Regions from separate parts of the Homo sapiens genome. Here region 2 is linked to region 1. A link means that fine-mapping ties the variant in region 1 to the expression of a gene that starts in the linked region. Tissue or cell type: skeletal muscle. Region 1 holds a variant in brackets; the other region holds the start of a gene. All regions are shown on one strand. Distances are from middle to middle.

What was found. PIP is the estimated chance that this variant, and not a neighbour inherited with it, causes the effect.
Region 2: it holds the start of RFK, and the variant in region 1 is fine-mapped to the expression of RFK in skeletal muscle (GTEx, PIP 0.95).

The regions. Positions count from the first base shown.
Region 1 is chr9:76,445,365-76,455,475 of GRCh38, forward strand. It overlaps a transcript of GCNT1 not described here. Among named protein-coding and RNA genes, the nearest start is that of GCNT1, 8.8 kb to the right of the region's middle. The variant C/T (reference allele first, on the strand shown) is at 4,795.
Region 2 is chr9:76,388,324-76,398,434 of GRCh38, forward strand. RFK (riboflavin kinase) reads right to left here and starts at 6,103. Exons shown (of 4, transcript NM_018339.6): 1 at 5,767-6,103; 2 at 4,095-4,246; 3 at 231-333. The coding sequence starts at 5,848. It also overlaps a transcript of GCNT1 not described here. RefSeq lists silencers at 730-1,024, 5,552-6,041, 6,082-6,161, 6,182-6,241 and enhancers at 5,374-6,187, 6,050-6,344, 6,522-6,761.

The sequences.
Region 1 (10,111 bases):
CTTTGTTTCAGGTTTTCCTTTCCTTATTTATTTATTTATTTTTTTGACAGTCTCACTCTTTCACCCAGGCTGGAGTGCAGTGGCTCAGTCTCGGCTCACTGCAAACTCCACCTCTTGGGCTCAAGCGATTCTTGTCCCTCAGCCTCCCGAGTAGCTGGGATTACAGTCATGTACCACCAAGCCCAGCTAATTTTTGTATTTCTTTTTTGGTAGAGATGGGGTTTCAACATGTTGGCCAGGCTGGTCTCGAACTCCCGAGCTCAAGCGATCCTCCCGCCTTGGCCTCCCTCAGTTTTTACTTATTAGAATTGGCAAAGATAAAAACTGTGGCTAGGTGGGGTGGCTCACACCTGTAATCCCAGCAATCTGGGAGGCCAAGGTGGAAGGAATGCTTGAGGTCAGGAGTTCGGGACCAGCCTGGACAACATGGTGAGACTCCTGTCTCTATAAAAAATAGAAAATACGAAAATTAGCCAGACATGGTGGTGTGTGCCTGTTCCAGCTACTCAAGAGGCTGAGGAGGGAGGATCTCTTAAGCCCAGAAGTTTGAAGCTGCAGTGAGCTGTGGTCAATTACACCACTGGACTCCAGCCTGGGCAACAGAGCAAGACCCCATTTCCTAAATAAATCAATAAATATTATTTTTAAAACCTGTGATAATTTGCTCTGTTGGTGAGTGTGTGGGGGAAACAGGAAGTCACACATTGCTGGTGAGAATGTAAATTGGAACAATTTCTCTGTGGAAGACATGAAGAGTCATCAGGAAGCTTAAGGCCTGGGAGTTCCTAGGGGATCATCTATCTAGAAAATTTACCCTGGGAAACTGACCTTCAAGTCTCCCTTGCAGAGATTATGCAGGAATGCACTGGAGTGACTCCAGTGCCCTTCTCTGGTCAGGAACATAGCCAGGGTCTCCAGAACATATAGAGGGTGTAAGACAAGGAGAGTTTTTGCAGAAGCTGATGGGAGCCAGCACACAGCACCCAGGGAAGTTTGCCCTTGTGGAAAAGACGGCTGCCAAAACTCCCGCTCCATGCAATCTTCTTAGAGTTTAAATTCTCCTATCCTTTATCAAGGTCTAAGGAACTTGTTTCTTTTGCCTGTGTCTGATGGTATCTATTGCCAATCATCTTCCCCCACACAGAGGGTGAGACCTATCAACTTTTTAAATGCACATACATTTTGACCAAGCAATACCACTTACGGCAATTAATACTACACATATGTTTTATATATGTGTGAAGACATTCACTGTAGCATTGTTTATAATAGCAAAAAACTGGAAACAACTGGAATGGCCATTAGGGAACTATTTGAATATCATGGCATAGCCCCGTACTGGATAGACACTGAAAAGAACAAAGAGGCTTTATATAAACTAATATGGAATGATTTTCCAAACGTGTTAAGTGAGAAGAAGCAAAGTAAAGAACATATATGGGCCAAGCATAGTGGCTTGGTGTTTACATACATTAGATGTTAGAGGTACATACTAAAGAGGCAGTTTAGGCTGGGCACAGTGGCTCATGCCTGTAATCCCAGCACTTTGGGAGGCTGAGACGGGCAGATCACTCGAGTCCAGGAGTTTGAGGCCAACGTGGCCAACATGGTGATACCTCATCTCTACAAAAAATACAAAAATTAACTGGGCATGGTAGCGTCCACCTGTAATCCCAGCTACTTGGGAGGCTGAGGTAGGAGGATTGTCTGAGCCCAGGAGATTGAGGCTGCAGTGAGCTGGGAGCGTGCCACTGCACTACATCCTGGGCAGAGTGAAACCCTGTGTCAAAAAAAAAAAAAAAAAAAAAAAAAAAAAGAACAGATATGGATGGTATGTGGATATTGCTGAATTGCTTCTTCCTTTTCTTTTTTTCTTTTTCTTCTTTTTCTTTTTTGGAGACAGATCTCACTCTCACCCAGGCTGGAGTGCAGTGGCTTGATCACCACTCACTGCAGCCTCAACCTCCCGGGCTCAGGCAATCCTTCCACTTTAGCCTCCTTAATAGCTGGGACCATAGGTGTGCACCACCACGCCCCAGCTAATTTTTATTTTTATTTTTTTGTAGAGAGAGGTTTCACCATGTTGCCCAGGCTGGTCTTAAACTCCTGGGCTTAAGCGATCGGGCTGCCTCAGCCTCCCAAAGTGCTGGGATTACAGGCATGAGCCACTGTGCCCAGCCTAAACTGCCTCTTTAGTATATACCTCTAACATCTAATGTATGTAAACACTAGGACTGATTTTCACCCTATTTCTTAACTTTTTTATAGTTATACATGTGATTTTGCACACTACCACCAGAGGGGGCCTCTGCCACACTTCACGCAATATTTACAAGTCAGTATGGAGGATGTTTATTAAATAATTTTTATATCTAGAACATTCTTGTTCATTTAGCATAGGCATTTTGGTGCTCAGCTTTAAAAAAACTCTGTGAGCCCCCTGGCTCATCCGTCTTCTTTAGCATGTCAGTCCACAATCCCTGTGTCCAGTACGCCCTGACCCTGTCATCTTCCTTTGCTGTGCTGGATTCCTGAAACTGAAAATGCCTCACAACTTCTATGCACTCTTACCCTCAAAAGAGTGCATTTAGTGGCATGGCTGTGCCAGCCGTCTTTGTCCAGATGGCTTCCAGATAGGAATCACTGAGTCCAGGAATACTTTGAGAAGCCTGGAGAGCCTCTACTCTGAAAGTTTATCATCACTGCAAACTCAGCGAGTCCAGATTTTGCTCAACACATGCTGTCTGCTTTCTGTTTACCCCTCTAGTCTTTACTAACAGACACTTTATATATATATATACACACAGCCAGGCGCGGTGGCTCGCGCCTGTAATCCAAGCACTCTGGGAGCCCGAGGCAGGCGGATTACTTAAGCCCAGGAGTTTGAGACCAGCCTGGGCAACATGGTGAAACCCTATCTCTACAAAAAATACAAAAATTAGCCAGGTGTGGTGGCACGTACCTGTAGTCCCAGGTACTTGGGAGGCTGAGGTGGGAGGATGGCTTGAGCCCAGAAGACTGAGGCTACAGTGAGCTGTGATCATGCCACTGCACTCCAGCCTGGGTTGCAGAGTACGACCCCACCTCAAAACAACAACAGCAGCAAAAAAATCTTATTGAGGCATGGTTTAATAAAATATAGCTGTTTAGGTGTATAGTTCCATGACTTCTGACCAACCTACTAACCCAGGCAATTATTACCACAATCAAGATAAAGAACATTTCTATCACCCCAAAAAGCAAATGCCCTCCTCTCCCCACACTCAGCCCCAGCAACAACTGCTCTCCTTTCTGTCACTATAGATTAGATTTGCCTCTTCCAGAATTTCAGATACATAAACATGAATCAAACGGTCTGTACTCTTTCGTGTTTGGCATCTTTATCTCCACATAAGGTCTGGAGATTCATCCATGTTGAAGTGTGAATCAATTTTGCTTTCTTAAATGTCATTCCATTATTTTAATATGATATGCTGCAATTTGTTGATCCATTCAGACAGGTACTTCTTTTAACTTGTTTTTGCTGGTAAACACCCTGATGGGCATCTGCTCACTGTACATGTCATTTTCTTTTGGACAGAAATGCTAAATTTACTATTATTTGTTCATTTATTTTATGTTTTTCCAAAATGGAAACATCTTTCTGAAACAATGGGAAAGGGATCAGAATATGCCACCCCAGGCTGGGCATGGTGGCAGGGCCTATAATCCCAGCATTTTGGGAGGCTGAAGTGAGAAGATCCCTTGAGGCCAGGAGTTTGAGACCAGCCTGGGCAATAAAGCAAGACCCTGTCTCTACCAAAAACAAAATAAAATAAATTAGCGGGGCGGGGTAGTGTGTACCTGTAGTCCTAGCTACTTGGTTCAAGATGACAGTGAGGTATGATCACACTACCACACTCCAGCCTGGGCAACAACAAACAAGACCCTGTCTCTATAAAAAACAACAAAAAAAAAAACAAGCAAATAAAATGATAATAGTAAAAGTAAAAAAGAATGTGCCACCTCAAAACATGCCATATTGGCATAAGGATTATTTTGAGCTAAAGGCAACTGAGAAACAGCAGACACAAGCAAAACTCTTTGCCCTCTCTCTTTCTACCTACAAACGTTTGCCTAATTTCCCTTTGCAAAGGTGATGCCCTCTCCCATACCAGAATAAGGTGAACAATTCATCTGCATAACACACCTCACTAAACAAGCCTTAATTACCATGCCTTTCCCAGTTACCTTCCCACAATTTACCCACACCAGAGAAGCGCAGCCTCTCCCCATTTCCCTTGTCTAGTAGCTTCCCACACTTTATCATCCTCTGTTAAAATGCTGTATAAGCTCCTGGGTCTAAGCACCTCTTTGGGATTTTCACTTTTTTTCTGTGAAGCTTACATATGCAAACAAAATAAACCTTTTCGTTTTTGTTTGTTTTGTTTTGTTTTTGAGACAGAGTCTCACCCTGTCACCCAGGCTGGAGTGCAATGGTGTGATCTCGGCTCACTGCAACCTCTGCCTCCTGGGCTCAAGTGATTCTCATGCCTCAGCCTCCCAAGTAGCTAGAATTACAGACGCCCAGCTAATTTTTTGTATTTTTTGTAGAGACAGGTTTTCGCCGTTTTGGCCAGGCTGGTCTCAAACTCCTGACCTCAAGTGATCCACCAGCCTCAGCCTCCCAAAGTGCTGGGATTACAGGTGTGAGCCACTGCGCCCGGCCCTATTCGCCTCTTTTTATAAATTATATGTAACTGATGGTGTGTAAATTCTGTCCTGTCTGGCAATAATTTAATTGGTTCCCGCCAT[C/T]CCCACCCTATGAAAATACCAGTTTTGTTTCCATTTGCAATTCATCTTAACATTCCTTTACTCCAGATAAATCTGTGCTTTTTGACTTTTCCTTTGAAATGTTTATAACGTACATCTGATTCCCTTATAGCATATGCGTAAATTCCTTAACAGATGTGCACTTTTATATTTGTATGAGTCATGATTTTATCTTTCTCTGAAAATTATTTTTTAACAACCCTTACATTGTTTACAGTGTTTCGATTCTGAAATCTTTGTGTATTTGTAAAATTTCCTACATAGGATAAATTCCTAGATGAATAGTTGTCCATAAGTATCCATGTTGTCCAAATGCCTTCTAGAAAGTTTGTAGAAATCTCTACAACAGAGAGCAGCACAGGAGTCTGTATTCCTACACCTTCATCTATATTATGTTTATCAATCTTTTTCAACTTTGCCAATCTGATAGGTAAAAAGTGATTTGTAGTTTTAATTTGCTTTTCTTCAATTCCTATTGAAATTGAGCATCTTTTTATGTGGATTTCTTCTTTAGTGAAGTATCTTATCATGCCCTTTGCCCATTTTTCACCTGGTGCATATTTTTACGTAAACACCCCTTTATTTGAAAAATTAATTTTTGCTTACATACTATTGCATATATTTTCTAGTTTGTTGACTTTTAACTTTGTTTATGATATATTTTGTTATGCATACATTTAACACTTTAATGTATTAACTATATCAAACTATTTTGTGTGTGATTTTAGCTTTGTTGCCATTCTGAGAAATGCTGCCTGCTCTTAAAAGGGATCAACCTGTTTCTTTTTAAAAACATTAAAGAACTTACATGTATGGGTTTTAGAAACATATTTCAGGCTTTACTCTACCTGGAATTTGCATGCTTAGGAGCCACACTTTCTTTTTTTCCTGGACAGTACATTTATGATTGAATTTGCTTTCTCCATGCTTTGAAAGTAGTACCTTACTCTTTTATGTCTTCCTCATGTTCTTTTCAATGTAATTTGATTAAATTTCTAAAACAATTCAAAACTAATTTTGTAGCATTTGTCAAAATAAATCTGGATTTAGGCAAGGGGAGACTTTATTCAAAAGGATTATTGCAAGAAGAGGATGGGTGGCTATCATAAAAGGATGAGGAGAGCTCTTTAGCCAGTGCTATTTTTCAGAAAAACAAGGCTCTGGCAAAGATCAACACTGTTGACCTCCCTTTTGTTAATGATAAAAGAATATTATTCACCACTGAGCAATTCAGATGCAATCCTAAGCCTCCTACATGGGGTGAGTCAGGGACTAAGAAACGGTCTCCTGGGGACTCTGGTTGGTGTTGTTCCCACAAAACCAGCTGAAGCATCTGTTGAAAGGTGGTGGCAAAAATCAGTTGTTTAAGGGTCAGGTATCTTAAAATGAGGAATGCCTACCATTAAAAAGATAAATGTTAATTAAAAGTTTTAATATAAAAGGCCAAAGAAATATTAATCTTGGCATCTACAAGCCAAGGAGAGAGGCCTCAGAAAAAGCCCAACTCTGCTGACACTCAATTTTGGACTTCCAGCCTCCAGAATTGTGAGAAAACAAAATTCTGTTGTTTAAAGTACCAGTCTATGGTACTTTGTTGACAGACCTAGCAAAGTAATATACCTACAGAGAAAACTATGAAGTAGATAATTAGCTGTCTGTCATATACCAGCATATTGTAGCAGACTAGTCAAGCTTAAGGTTATATATCTTGTGACTTTTTTATAGCCATACACTTCCTTATAGTACAACTTTTCTTTTCTTTTCTTTCTTTCTTTTTTTTTTTTTTTTTTGTTGTTGTTGTTGTTGTTTTGAGATGGAGTCTCTCTCTGTCGCCCAGGCTGGAGTGCAATGGTGTGATCTCGGCTTACTGCAACCTCCACCTCCTGGCTTCAAGTGATTCTCCTGCCTCAGCCTCCCGAGTAACTGGGATTACAGGCCCCTGCCACCACATCCAGCTAATTTTTGTATTTTTAGTACAGATGGGGTTTCACCATGTTGGTCAGGTTGATCTCAAACTCCTGACCTCAGGTGATCCACCCACCTTGGCCTCCCAAAGTGCTGGGATTACAGGTGTGAACCACTGCACCTGGCCTGTACAACTTTTCAGTGTGGCAAGAATGAACACATCATTAGCAGACCAAAATATATTTAGCCTCTCTGTACTAAAAAAAATTTACATAAGCTTTAAATTATGCTCCACTAGTCTATCTTACTTAGAAATGATCTAGGTACTTATATTAGACCATTCTTGTATCGCTATAAAGAACTACCTGAGACTGGGTAATTTATAAAGAAAAGAGGTTTAATTGGCTCACAGTTCTGTACGCTGCACAGAAAGCATGGCTTGGGAGGCCTCAGGAAACTTACAATCATGATGCAAGTTGAAGGGGAAGCAGGTACATCTTACACGGCTGGAGCAGGGGGAGGAGAGGCAGGGAGGAGGTGCCACATACTTTTAAACAACCAGATCTCATGAGAACTCCATGACAAGACAGCACCAAAGGGATGGTGCTAAACCATTAGAAACCGCCTCCAGGATTCAATCACACTCCATCAGGCCCCACTTCCACAACTGGGGACTACAATTCGATATGAGATTTGGGCAGGGACACTGATCGAAACCATATCACCCCCGAAGTGGGAAGGGCTCCCTACCCAGCTAGTTTCCCCTTCAGCCAGACCAGCTGTACCCTACTTAATCTTCAATCTAAGGAGCTTTACCTACCTGCCAGCCCACAGAACTATTTGAACAAGCCAATTACATCCTCCCGTGGAATAAAAGGTTACCTCACTCTTGTGCCATTACTACAAAGCCTGCCTCACACAGCCCCTGCTGCTTCAGTCTGCTTTCAAATGCAATTCCCATGTGGCTCTGCCTGGCATGCAATAACCTCCTCACCCCTTAGGCTGTGAGTATGTAACTGAAAAAACTGTAGCCAATCTCATCTGCCCAGTATTGGGTGTCATCTGTTCAGCCATCTCCTGTTTAGCACAGGAGATCCCTGCTTCACCAGTGCTGTGAAGAGAAGGTGGTCAGAACAGAAGGGAGGCCTAATCTTGAGTGACCATGAGTTGAGGAGCTGGAGTGGGTAGGAAAAGGTGTGTAGGAATGGGTAGATGGGTGAAGGAGGTGGACAGATTAAATCATTCAAGGCAACAAAAGAGAAGGTTTAAAGTGGTAAAAAGGAGGGATGAGGATGATGGGAAGGGAGAAGTCTTAGATGAGCTGGTTTAAGGAGATCTCATGTTTCCCAAAGAGGCCTTTGAGGTTCTAGGTTACCTTTAGTAAATTGTGCCATTTTTGAGGCTATTAAACTGAATTAGTGCCATAATAGCAGGTACTCAGTGGGGGAAGAGGAGGGCATCTGATAGAGTGAGAGTTACCCATGGCATTAGTGGATAGTCAGCCCAAAGAAAAGTCTTTAAAGGAGCCAAGAAAAACTCCCACTTGATTAATTCCCTTGAACAATCCCCAGGTCGAGGAGCTGAGGAAACACAGAAGTCTCACAGGAGGGCCAAAGCATCTCTTTGCCTGAAACAATCAAAGTAACCTCTTACTGTTCTTCAACAGACAAGATGGCCAGAGCACTGGTTCAAGACTTGAACTCACCCAAGAGTCCTCAAGTCCTGAACATGGCACCTTTACCTGGGTGGGGCTGGTGGAGGTCCCTAGGTGAGTTCCAGTCTTGAGCTGGATCACAGCAATGAGAACTGTCAAATAAAAACCAAATCCAGATCTAGGTAAGGAGAGACTTTATTTAGAAGGATTATTGCAATAGAAAAAGAGAATGTCGCAATAGGGGAGGGACGGCATTCTAATAGAATGCTTCAACCATAAGATCTGCAAGCTTTTGAAAGGTCAGGCAGAAAAGGGTTTTTCTTTTTTTGGTAGTAGTAAACAATGTTAAAAAGAACCAGTATCGGCTGAGTGCGGTGGCTCATGCCTGTAATCCCAGCACTCTGAGAGGCCAAGGTGGGAGGATCACCTGAGGTCAGGAGTTTGAGACCAGCCTGACCAACATGGTGAAAACTCGTCTAAAAATACAAAATTAGCTGGGCATGGTTGGTGCATGCCTGTAATCCCAGCTACTTGGGAGGCTGAGGCAGAAGAATCGCTTGAACCCGGGAGGCGGAGGTTGCAGTGAGCTGAGATTGCACCACCATTGTACTCCAGCCTGGGCAACAAGAGCGAAACTCTGTCTCAGAAAAGAAAAAAAAAAAAAAAAAAAAAAAAAAAAGAACCAGTATCAGGGAGTGGGATGAGCAGGTGGCCCAATCAGGCAACTGATCAGGACAGAGTTTCTTTGTGGTCAGCTGGAAAAGGGCTTCTTGGGAGGGGATGTGATATGGTTTGGCTGTGTTCCCACCCAAACCCCACCCAAATCTCATCTTGAATTGTAATCCCCATAATCCCCACGTGGTGAGGGAGGGGCTTGGTGGAGGTGATTGGATCGTGGGGGCAGTTTCCCCCGTGTTGTTTTTGTGATAGTGAGTGAGTTCTCAGGAGATCTGATGGTCTTATAAGGCTGTTTTCCCTGCTCTTGCTTGCTCTCTCTCATCTGCCGCCGTGTAAGATGTGCCTCTTCCCCTGCTGTCATGATTAAAAGTTTCCTGAGGCCCCCCCAGCCAGGCAAAACTGTGAGTCAATTAAACCTCTTTTCTTTTCTTTTTTTTTTTTTTTTTTTTTTGTTAGACAGAGTCTCACTCTGTCGCCAGGCTGGAGTGCAGTGGCATGATCTCAGCTCACTGCAACCTCCGCCTCCCGGGTTCAAGCGACTCTCCTGCCTCAGCCTCCTGAGTAGCTGGGATTACAGGCGTGCACCACCACGCCTGGATAATTTTTGTATTTTTAGTAGAGACAGAGTTTCACCATGTTGGTCAGGCTGGTCTCGAACTCCTAACCTTGTGATTCGCCCGCCTCAGCCTCCCAGAGTGCTGAGATTACAGGCGTGAGCCACCGCACCCAGCCTTTAAACCTCTTTTCTTTATAAATCATCCAGTCTCAGAAATGTCTTTATAGCAATGTGAAAGCAGACTAATACAGGACATTAAGGGGCTTATTCCAAATTCCAATGCTGGTTTAGGCTGAGACTAGATTAAAGGGCAAAGACCTGATGGAAGGAGAAAAGCCTCATTGAAGTTTGATCAAGTAAGGTATTTGCCCAGATTGATCAGTAGGGGCAAATGGTTCAGCTAACCATTTATAAGATGAGAATGGAAATTTGGAGCGCATGTCTATGGCCTTGTTGTAAGTGTGAAAGGATGTTATCCATGATGATTACCTAAGTCATTTGGGGAA
Region 2 (10,111 bases), 57 kb before region 1:
CTTTGAGAATGTTACTTAATCTCTCTGTGCCATTTCCTCATCTGAGAAATAGGCAAAATAATCCCTCACAGGTGAAAGAAGATAGATTCACGTAAAGCACTTAAAACGGTGCCTGGCATATATTAAATGCTCAAATATTATCTGTCCTGCCATCATTATTACTGGTAGTAGTGGTAGAGTTACCTGTGGTAGCAGTAGTAGTATTTAAGAAGATCAAAATAAGAACTTACCTAAAGAATCAAAGTTCTTTTCTGGTCTCAGGTAGCCAACAATGGCCACATTGAGGATTTCCCCATAGAAGTCCTCTTTGAAGGTATGCATGATATGTGTTTCCTATAGTCAAGAAATGTTACAAAGAGTGCTATCAGACTACAGTGTACTGAAATCTGAAATACATCTTCATGTTTATGGTGAGTTAATTTAAATGAAACAATCAACACTCCTTAAACTTTTAAAGATTCAGGTTAAAATCTAAGTGCAGTTTTTCCTAAATTTTCCCAGCACTCCTGTTTGGATCTTATAAACCTAACTGAGTGAGGTGACAGTGTCTGGCATGATTTGCTGTTACTTAAAAACAAACAAACAAACAATAACAAAAAAACTGACACGTATCCAAGGAAGTAAGTATCTTATCAAGGTGAGAAAACAGGACACCAAAGAGGGAATGAGCAAAGTATTAAAAGATGTTACTACTAAACAACTAGTTGTTAAGGTCAGTCAGCATTTGCACACGTCTGACACACAACATGTATGGAAACTTCAGAGTTTGGCAGAGCTGAGGACTGAAGGGGCAGGAGAGCCAATGCAGCTTCCTGATCAGGGAGTAAAGTGGCAAAAGGGTACACAGCACATTAAAGCAAAATGCCGCATGACGTAGAAAGTGCCTCAGAATCTAGTTCAGCTAAATCATCTGGGCAGTACTGTGGTTAAGAGGTTAAGAGCACTGACTTAGAGTCAAAAGTCTGGGTTCCCACACTTGGTTAACTGTATAACTAGCTTCCGCGGGGCTCAGTTTTCTCGTCTGTAATGGGTGGGGGGCGGCTTGAGTTAGAAGATACATAAAGTGCCCCATGACTTTGGGGCTATGAACCAATATATTCTTTCTTTTCAGTAAACATTTGAATAATAAAAAAGAAACTAAGATATGTAAGACTGGTTGGGTGCAGTAGTTCATGCCTGTAATCCCAGCACTTTGGGAGGCGGAGCCAGGAGGATCACTTGAGGTCAAGAGTTCAAGACCAGCTTGGCCAACATGGTGGAACCCGGTACTCTACTAAAAACACAAAAATTAGCTGGGCATGGTGGCGCATGCCTATAGTCCCAGCTACTCAGGAGGCTGAGGCAGGAGAATTGCTCAAACCCAGGAGGCGGAGGTTGCAGTGAGCCAAGATCACACCACTGCACTCCAGCACTCTAGCCTTGGCGACAGAGCGAAGACTCCATCTCAAAAAAAAATTTAAAAATAATTTTAAAAAATATGTAAGACCCTGACACTGACAATTACAAGACATTATTGAGAGAAATGGCAAACTTCCCAAAGTAATCTACGAATTCAATGCTGCCCCAATCAAAATCCTAGCAGGTTTTTTAAAATAGGAGAAACTGACAAGTGATTCTAAAATTTATATGGAAAAACCAAAATTATTCATGAAAATCTTGAGAACAAAACTAGAGGGCTTATACAACTAGGTATCAAGACCTATGATAAGACAAGCAAACCAAGTATGTATGTGAATTTTTGGACTCACACACATATAAGGTCACTTGATTTATGTCCCAGGTGACACTACAGCACTGTTGTGAAAGCATGGTATTTTCAATGAATAGGCTGGGTCAATTCTACATCCATATGGAAAAAAATATTAATTTAAATCCCTATCAGATACCATACTAAAAAAGTCAATTTGAAGATATGTCAGTCAATTAAACTTTTAGAAAAAAACCACAGACAAGTATCTTCATGACTTTGGAGTAGTCAAAGATTTCTGAAACAGATTATATAAAGCACTAACTATAAAAAAAATATTGAACTGGATTGTATTAAAATTAAGAACCTCTGGGCTGGGTGCCATGCTCATGCCTGTAATCCTGGCACTTTGGGAGGCTGAGGCAGGAGGACTGCTTGAGCCCAAAAGTTTGAGACCAGTCTGTGTAACATGCTGAAATCTCATCTCTATAAAAAAATTTAAAAATAGCCAAGCATGGTGGCACATGCCTGTGGTCCTAGCTACTCGGGAGGCTGTGATGGGAGGATCACTTCAGCCCAGAAAGTTGAGGCTGCAGTGAGCTGAGATTGCACCACTGCACTGCAGCCTGGGTGACAGAGCAAGACCCTATCTGAAAATACAAAACAAAACAAAACTCTGTTCTTCAACACACCATTGAGAAAAAAAAAAAAAAAACCACACACACACACACAATGAAAGAAATTTGTAATACAACAATACACAGTTCCAACAAAGGAAGTGGATCTAGATGTGTTACTAAGAACTTATTTAAGGTCAGTAAGATAACGCTTTTTTTTTTTTTAAAGGACAAAGGTCTGGCACAGGCACTTCACAGATGTGTGTTACTGGCAAAGGCAAGCAAAAGTTCAATTTTCCACTGGTAAGATATGCCTATGTTTCAAATTCAATTTTTCCTAACACTCAAAAGGCATTCCTTAACTGGCTGTATAATAACATTTTTGTTATCTAAGTAGCTAAAGACAAATTAGTTATGGGCTATTGTCCCCTCCCCTTCTTTTCCTTCCTCATTCAACAGAATGGTATTTTGTGATCTTTCGATTGTTTTCCTTGTCTCCAAAAAATAATTTTCAAATCATTAATACTGAAAAATAACTGAAATACTGAGCAAAATGTTAAGTACTTCTGCGTCATTACTATTGCTTACGCCAGCATTTAGCTCTGTAGTTTTCCAGCAGTGACACACTTCACTTCTATTAACTCCACACAGAACAAAATTTAGCTTCACTGTAATTTGTTTTTGCCACACATTTGAGCTGACAAAAGATTCAGCCAAATCTAACAGATAAAACACTGAAGTTGTGGGGTCCTGTAAAGAGTAGGGCAGAAAAGTATACCCTCAGGTGGTTTAAAAAGGAAAGAGAAAAGCACCAATGTGGGACTGTATCAATAAGCACCATCCTCCATCCACCATCCATGTAGTAAACTGTTTTATCTTAAGAGGGTGACCAAGCGCAATTGATGCATGAAGTAAATGGTGAATGAAGTGCATTAATTGTGGCAAGCTCAATTTTATGAAACAGGCTTTTAAATCATTTTTATCTTTGGTCAAGTGAGTCTTTCACAGACAGCAATTATCAAAGTCAGTATTATAATTTTGGTTTGTAACTCCACTCTTTATTTTCTACATAATTTAAAAAATAAATGCATAAAAAAACCAATTATTAATCTTTGTTATTGGGTACCACAATGTATAAGGATGTAATCTGAGCCAGATGCAGGCAGTGGCATGTACCTATAGTCCCAGCTCTCTGGAGGCTGGAGGAGGATTACTTGAGCCCATGAGTTTGAAGCTACAGTGTGCTACAACCTGGCCTGTGAACAGCTACTGCACTTCAGTCTGGGCAACATAGTGAGACCCCATCTTTAAAAAAAAAAAAAAAGATGCAATTTCTGAGTTCTGTATGCTATTGAAATTAAGTTGGTATAAACTCAAATTAAACTTTTAGAATTTCAGGATGTTAAATATAAACCCCATGGTAACCACAAAGACAGTATCTATAGAAATACACAGAAAGCAATGAGAAAGGAATTAAAATGTCACTACAAAACAAAACAAAACAAAAAGCACACTACCACAAAAGGCAGTAATAGAGGAAATGAGGGACATAAAAGTTATAAGGCATATAAAAAACAAATAGCAAAACAGTAGATGTCCCTCCTTATCAGAAATTACTTTAAATGTAAATGAATTAAACTCTCCAATTAAAAGACAGAGATTGCCCAAAATTCCAGTATTTGAACTACGTTGTGATTACCACTGATAAGCTATTTCTGTAACGAATACTGTAATATATTATTCTAAGTCATCATACCATTTTCGGTTACAGAGCAAAATATAATGCTTACCATAGACTTCTTCGTATTCTTGTAATATGGGTTCCATCCTATGCTCACCACCATCTTATGGACATCTCCACTTCCAACACTGGCCCAACCATAGTAAATACCAGTGGATATATCAGCTGGAAGATTATCTACCACTTGCTCAGGAAAATTAGCTAAACAACAGAAGAAAATATTTTGAGTCTTACAAATTTCGTATTAAATGCCTGTAGCCGAGTGCAGTGGCTCATGTCTGTAATTCTAGGACTTTGAGAGGCCAAGGCAGGAGGCTCATGTTGAGCTCTGGGGTTTGAGACCGGCCCGGGTAACATAGTGAGATCTTACCTCTATTAAAAAATTAGCTGGGGATGGTGGCCTGCACCTATAGTCTAAGCTACCAGAGAGGCTGAGGCAGGAGGGTCAGTTGAGCCCAGCAGATGGAGGCTGCAGTAAGCTATGATCGCACTACCACTGCACTCCAGCCTGAGTGGCAGAGCCAGATTCTGTCTCAAAATAATAATAAGAAACAAACATTTGTAAAAATCACATGCAAGGCTAATGTAAATCATTACATTCACAAGACTCCTACAACTTTGCCTGTAAGTATCAATCCCATCCTTCCATTTTCCGGCTCAGATTTCCCTCTCCTATTCATGTGAATAGGTTATGAATAAAGTACCAGGTAAGTATATAAAGCTCTCCAAAAAAATCCATACTCTTTGAGTAGGATGCAAAAAACAAGTACCAGAGTAGATGGATTTTTTCAGATCTGTTCTTTCCTAACCAGGTACTGAATCACCTGAAAAGTTTCTTTCTTTTTTTTTTTTTTTTGAGACGGTGTCTCACTCTGTCGCCCAGGCTGGAGGGCAGTGGCACGATCTCGCCTCACTGCAGCCTCCGTCTCCTGGGTTCAAGCGATTCTCCTGCCTCAGGTTCCCGAGTAGCTGGGATGACAGGCACGCGCCACCATGCCCAGCTAATTTTTGTATTTTTAGCAGAGACGGGGTTTTACCATGTTGGCCAGGCTGATCTCGAACTCCTGAGCTCAGATGATCCGCCCGCCTCGGCCTCCCAAAGTGCTGGGATTACAGGCGTGAGCCACCACGCCCGGCCAAAGCTTCTTATTTTTCAAATACACAAGCTCAAGGCTGACTTAACAAGTCAAGACGCAGCTCTGGCATGTATTTCTAAGGATGAATTACAGTCAGGTCTCGATTATTGAAATTAATGTAGACAGACCAAGAAGGTTAGCTGACTCTCATTCAACTACCTATGTTATCATTTGGACATTACATAATTACAAATTAAAAACAAAACCACCTTAGACCCGGCTTGCGAGTTCAGCCGTTCTGGCCCACGTTACGTCTCTAATGGGCAAGACAAGCGCAATGCTTGACCAACTGTACCTTGGCTGGCCAAGGAGGCGTGAACGGGGAATCCTGCGATTCATCTCGGGCTTCCGGCCCTCACCACCCCTCAACCCCGTCCCCGCGGAGCTCGGAGCCAGAAGCAGGGACAAGCTCCCTCAACCGAGCCAACGGTCCTCCGCCACAGACAAGGGGATGCGGGAGGAGGAAGGGTGTGCTCTCTGCCCGCGGTCCGGAGGCCCCACGCCCCGGTCCCAAGTCCCCGGCTGCCGTCTCTCCCCGCTCCCCACGTGACCCGGCCCGGGGGACTCTGGCCGCCCTGCTCTCACCTGTGGGGATGCCCAGCTGCTTGGAGCCGCGGCCGAAGCCCCGCACCACTTGACCCCGGCAGAAGTAAGGCAGGTGCCTCATAATGCAGTCCGCTCGGGGAATGGGCTGCGGCCCGGTCTGCGCGTCCTGCGGAGCCGCCGTCGACGCGGCGCCCAGACCCCGGACCAGCCGGGGGACAGGAGCGTGAGCTCTGCCTGCCGCGGGGGCGCACCAGTGGCCGGACGACGCCGACCACAGGCCACTGCGAATCCCTGACGCCGCCGACCCAACAAATACCGCCGGGCGCCTGAGGAGCTGCGTCTCCGCTGGAGGGCAGCGGAGACAGCCGAAGTAAGTGCCGGGTGTGAGCGGGGTGGGGGGAGGGGGCGGCCCGAAGCGCAGAGCCGGCCTCCGCGCCGCCGGCGTGCGCTCCCTTCCTCAGCCGAACGCCTCGAGCCCGCTCGGCTTCCGTAGCCCCGCCCCATCATGGCCCCGCCCCGCCGCTGCCTCGCCCGGCTCCCGCCGCAAGCTCCCGCTGCAGGCTCCCGCCCCAGGCGCCTAATGTCTGGATCCCGGGCTTCGTTTCAGCCCCTGGCGATGGGAACTAATGTGGAAACCCCGTTTTCAGCCTGAGAGCCGCGAAAGCACAATTCTCGAACAATTCTGGTTTTTTTTTCTCCTTCCTCCTGTTCATAACAATCCGGAAGCCAAAGTGAGACGCTCTTTAGCTCCTTGGCAACCGCTGGGTTGAACGTCAGGCATCGCTCGTTCCGTTCGCTCTTTAAGTATTTATTAAAGCTCCAAAATTCAGCTCAAAGATCGCCTCTTCACAGAGGCTTTTCCTGGCCGCCCTACCAGAAGCGGTCGTCCTCCAGGACCACTGACCACGTTCTGGAGTTATTAATATATTCGAATGTAAGCTCCAAGGGAGAAGTCCCTGTCTGTGACGCTGTTAACCCCAGAGACTAGTGGAAGGTTACCGACATGGGCGGTGACTGTCCCCTCCAGGCTGTCTTCTTGACAATTTCACAAGCCCGATAACAGGCCGTCCCTCTACTGCAATGCAGATAGAGGCCTTCGTACCCTCGGAACTGTAAATACGCACGCTCCTAGGGAAGTAGCTCTGGGCTCACTCACAGGATATGCAGGGTGCAAGGTTATAAGAAGGTGCATCCTCTTAACGTCTCGAAGACAAAGAAGTTTTTTATTTATTTTTTTAAATTTTTAATCAATGGAATCCAGAGAAGTTTAATTTTTTTCTTTTTTGCTCTATACATTTGTATAAAATTCTGTGCAGACCGTGTAGTCTCTTTCTACCTTACATGTATGCATCTCTGATAAGATTTACCTGATATTAAATTTATGTTCTAGGCCAGGCTTGGTGGCTCACGCCTGTATTCCCAGTAGTTTGAGAGGCCGACGCGGGAGGATTGATTGAGCCCAGGAGGTCGAGGCTGCACTGAGCTATGATAACGCCACTGCACTCCAGACTGGGCGACACAGTGAGACACCCTCACCCCTTAAAAGAACTAGAGAAGAAGAAGGAAGGGAGGGAAGGGAAAGGAAAGGGGAAGGGAAAGTGAAAGGGAAGAAAAGGGAAGGGAAGGGAGAGAAGGACCCAAAGAAGCAATTATGGTCAGTTACTTATCTATACGGAATTAAACAAAGAATAATGAGAATAACGATAATAGTAATACCGGTAGTAAGAGTAGTAATAGCAAGTTGTGAAAAGCAATTAAGTTATCTGGAGAGGCTTAAGAGTTATTTTAGCAAGGTGTGTACAGGATTCTCTCACTCTTGACTCCCGTCCTTAATAAGAGTGCTGCATTCCTTCTAATATAGGGAGGATGTCTCTCATATGGTAATTTCATCTGCTTCTAAGAAACAGAAAAGAGGTCAGAATGATTTTTTTGTATCTATTGTTTTTCAAGTGCTTTTAATTCAAAATAGTCAATATGCAAGAATGGTATATTTTTAACTTCATCAGCAGTGATACACCTAATAAGAAAAGCCTGGAGGTGAGAACTTGATAAATCATCCCTGGGTCTTACGCCACTAAGCCCTAGGTTGCAAGAAGGTATGAGAATTAAATGAGATAAAATAATTAAATGAATCATAGGAGGTAAATGAGGAGGGGTGGTTTTAAGAATAGAGAAAATGCTAAGTATTTTTCACACTGTCTCATGTAATCCTCTCATCAGCTTTGTTGGAAAGCATTAACCTAAACGTATAAAAATGGGCGGGGCATGGTGGCTTACGCCTGTAATCCCAGCACTCTGGGAGACCGAGGTGAGCGGATCTCTTGAGCTGAGGAGTTCAAGACCAGCCTGGGCAAAATAGGGAGACTTCCGTCTATCCAAAAATTTTAAAATAAAAATAAGTAAGAAAGAGAGAAAAAAGAAAGAAAAGAAAAGAAACAAGAAAAAAAAGAAGAAAGGGGAAAGAAAAGAAGAGGAGAAAATAAGAAAGAAAATTTTAAAAATCAGCCAGGGCCTGGCACAGTGGCTCATGCCTGTAATCCCAGCACTTTGGGAGGCTGAGGCCGGTGGATCACTTGAGCTCAGGAGTTGGAGACCAGCCTGGGCAACATGGTGAAACCCCGTCTCTACAAAAAATACAAAAATTAGCCGGGAGTGGTGGCGCTCACCTGTGGTCCTAGATACCCTGGAGGCCGAGGCACAAGAGTCGCTCGAACCTGGCGGCAGTTGCAGTGAGCTGGAGATCACGCCACTGCACTCCATATGGGGCAACAGAGCGAGACTCTGTCTCAGCCAGGTGGTGGTGGCTCGTGCCTATAGCCCCAGCTACTTGGGAAACTGAGGAGTGAGGATCGCCTGAGCCCCAGAATTTGAGGCAGCAGTGAGCTGTGATTGAACCACTGCACTCCAGCCTAATGACAAAGCAAGACACGGTCACTAAAAAAATAAATAGGCCGGGCGCAGTGGCTCTTGCCTGTAATCCCAGCACTTTGGGAGACCGAGGCAGGTGGATCACCTGAGGCCAGGAGTTCAATACCAGCCTGGACAACATGGCAAAACTCGGTCTCTACTAAAAATACAAAAATTAGCCAGGCATGGCAGTGAATGCCAGTAATCCCAGCTACTCGGGAGACTGGGGCGGAAGAATCGCTTGAACCCAGGAGGCGGAGGTTGCTATGAGCCGAGATTGCTCCATTGTACTCCAGCCTGAGTGACAGAGCAAGATTCCTTCTCAATAAATAATACATAAATAAATAGATAGATTTAAAAAAAAAAAGGAGAGTCTTGTAGAATGTTTAAGATGGAGCAGTCAGGCTCCAATCTTTAAAACTACCATTTACATGTCAAGTCATATGGGTAATTACTGTGTTATCAGCATAGGATATAGAAGAAAGAATTTTTTTTTTTTTTTTTGAACCAGAGTCTCACTCTGTCACTCAGGTTGGAGTGCAGTGGCGCAATCTCGGCTCACTGCAACCTCCACCTCCCGGGCTCAAGTGATTCTCCTGCCTCAGCCTCCCGAGTAGCTGGGACTACAGGTTTATGCCACCACGCCCGGCTAATTTTTGCATTTTTAATAGAGACAGGGTTTCATCATGTTGGCCAGGCTGTTCTGGAACTCCTGGCTTCAAGTGATCCACCTTCCTCGGCCTCCCAAGAAGGAAGAATTCTGATCATTTTCCACCACCGCTCAATAGCGTTCAATGGCTCCTCCCCTCTGACTGAAGAATAAACCCTCCAAGAGTTGTACTTCTAAGAACTCCCATCAAGTACTCAATCTGTTGATCAAAGCAGACCCCTCCACCTTGCTTCAGAGGCCAAAGCATATGCTTCAAATAATTCAATAATTATTCTGTAGGCTATAGGATTTATAATTTTTCTTCTTCATTTGACTCCAAAAATATGCTACCTAGCATTCTCAGTAAATCTAGAGTTGAGAGTCTATGTGTCTTTGCCAAACTTACTGCTTTTAACCAAGGAAGTATTCTAAAACGTGTTTTTTATTTCCCCCTCTGAACTGCACTTGCACATCCTTTCAGCTGCCTGTAGGGAAAGAGTCCACTTCTCTGGTTTAATTTGTCTCTGTAGAAAGAAGGATCACAAATAAGACTAAAGAGAAAGTAGAACTGGCAGCTTGTGAGGGAAAAGAAGGCTTATTCTAAGTAAGCAATGAAAAATGAATCTGAAGAATTCTTAAAATTCAGCAATAAGAAAATAAGCAACTCAATTAAAAAATGAGCAAAAGATCTGAATAAGCATATGAAAAGATGTTCAACATCATATATCGTGAGGGAAATACAAATTAAAACAACAATGAGATACTACTATATACCAATTAGAATGGCCAAAATTCAGAACACTGACAACACCAAATGCTGGCAACCAT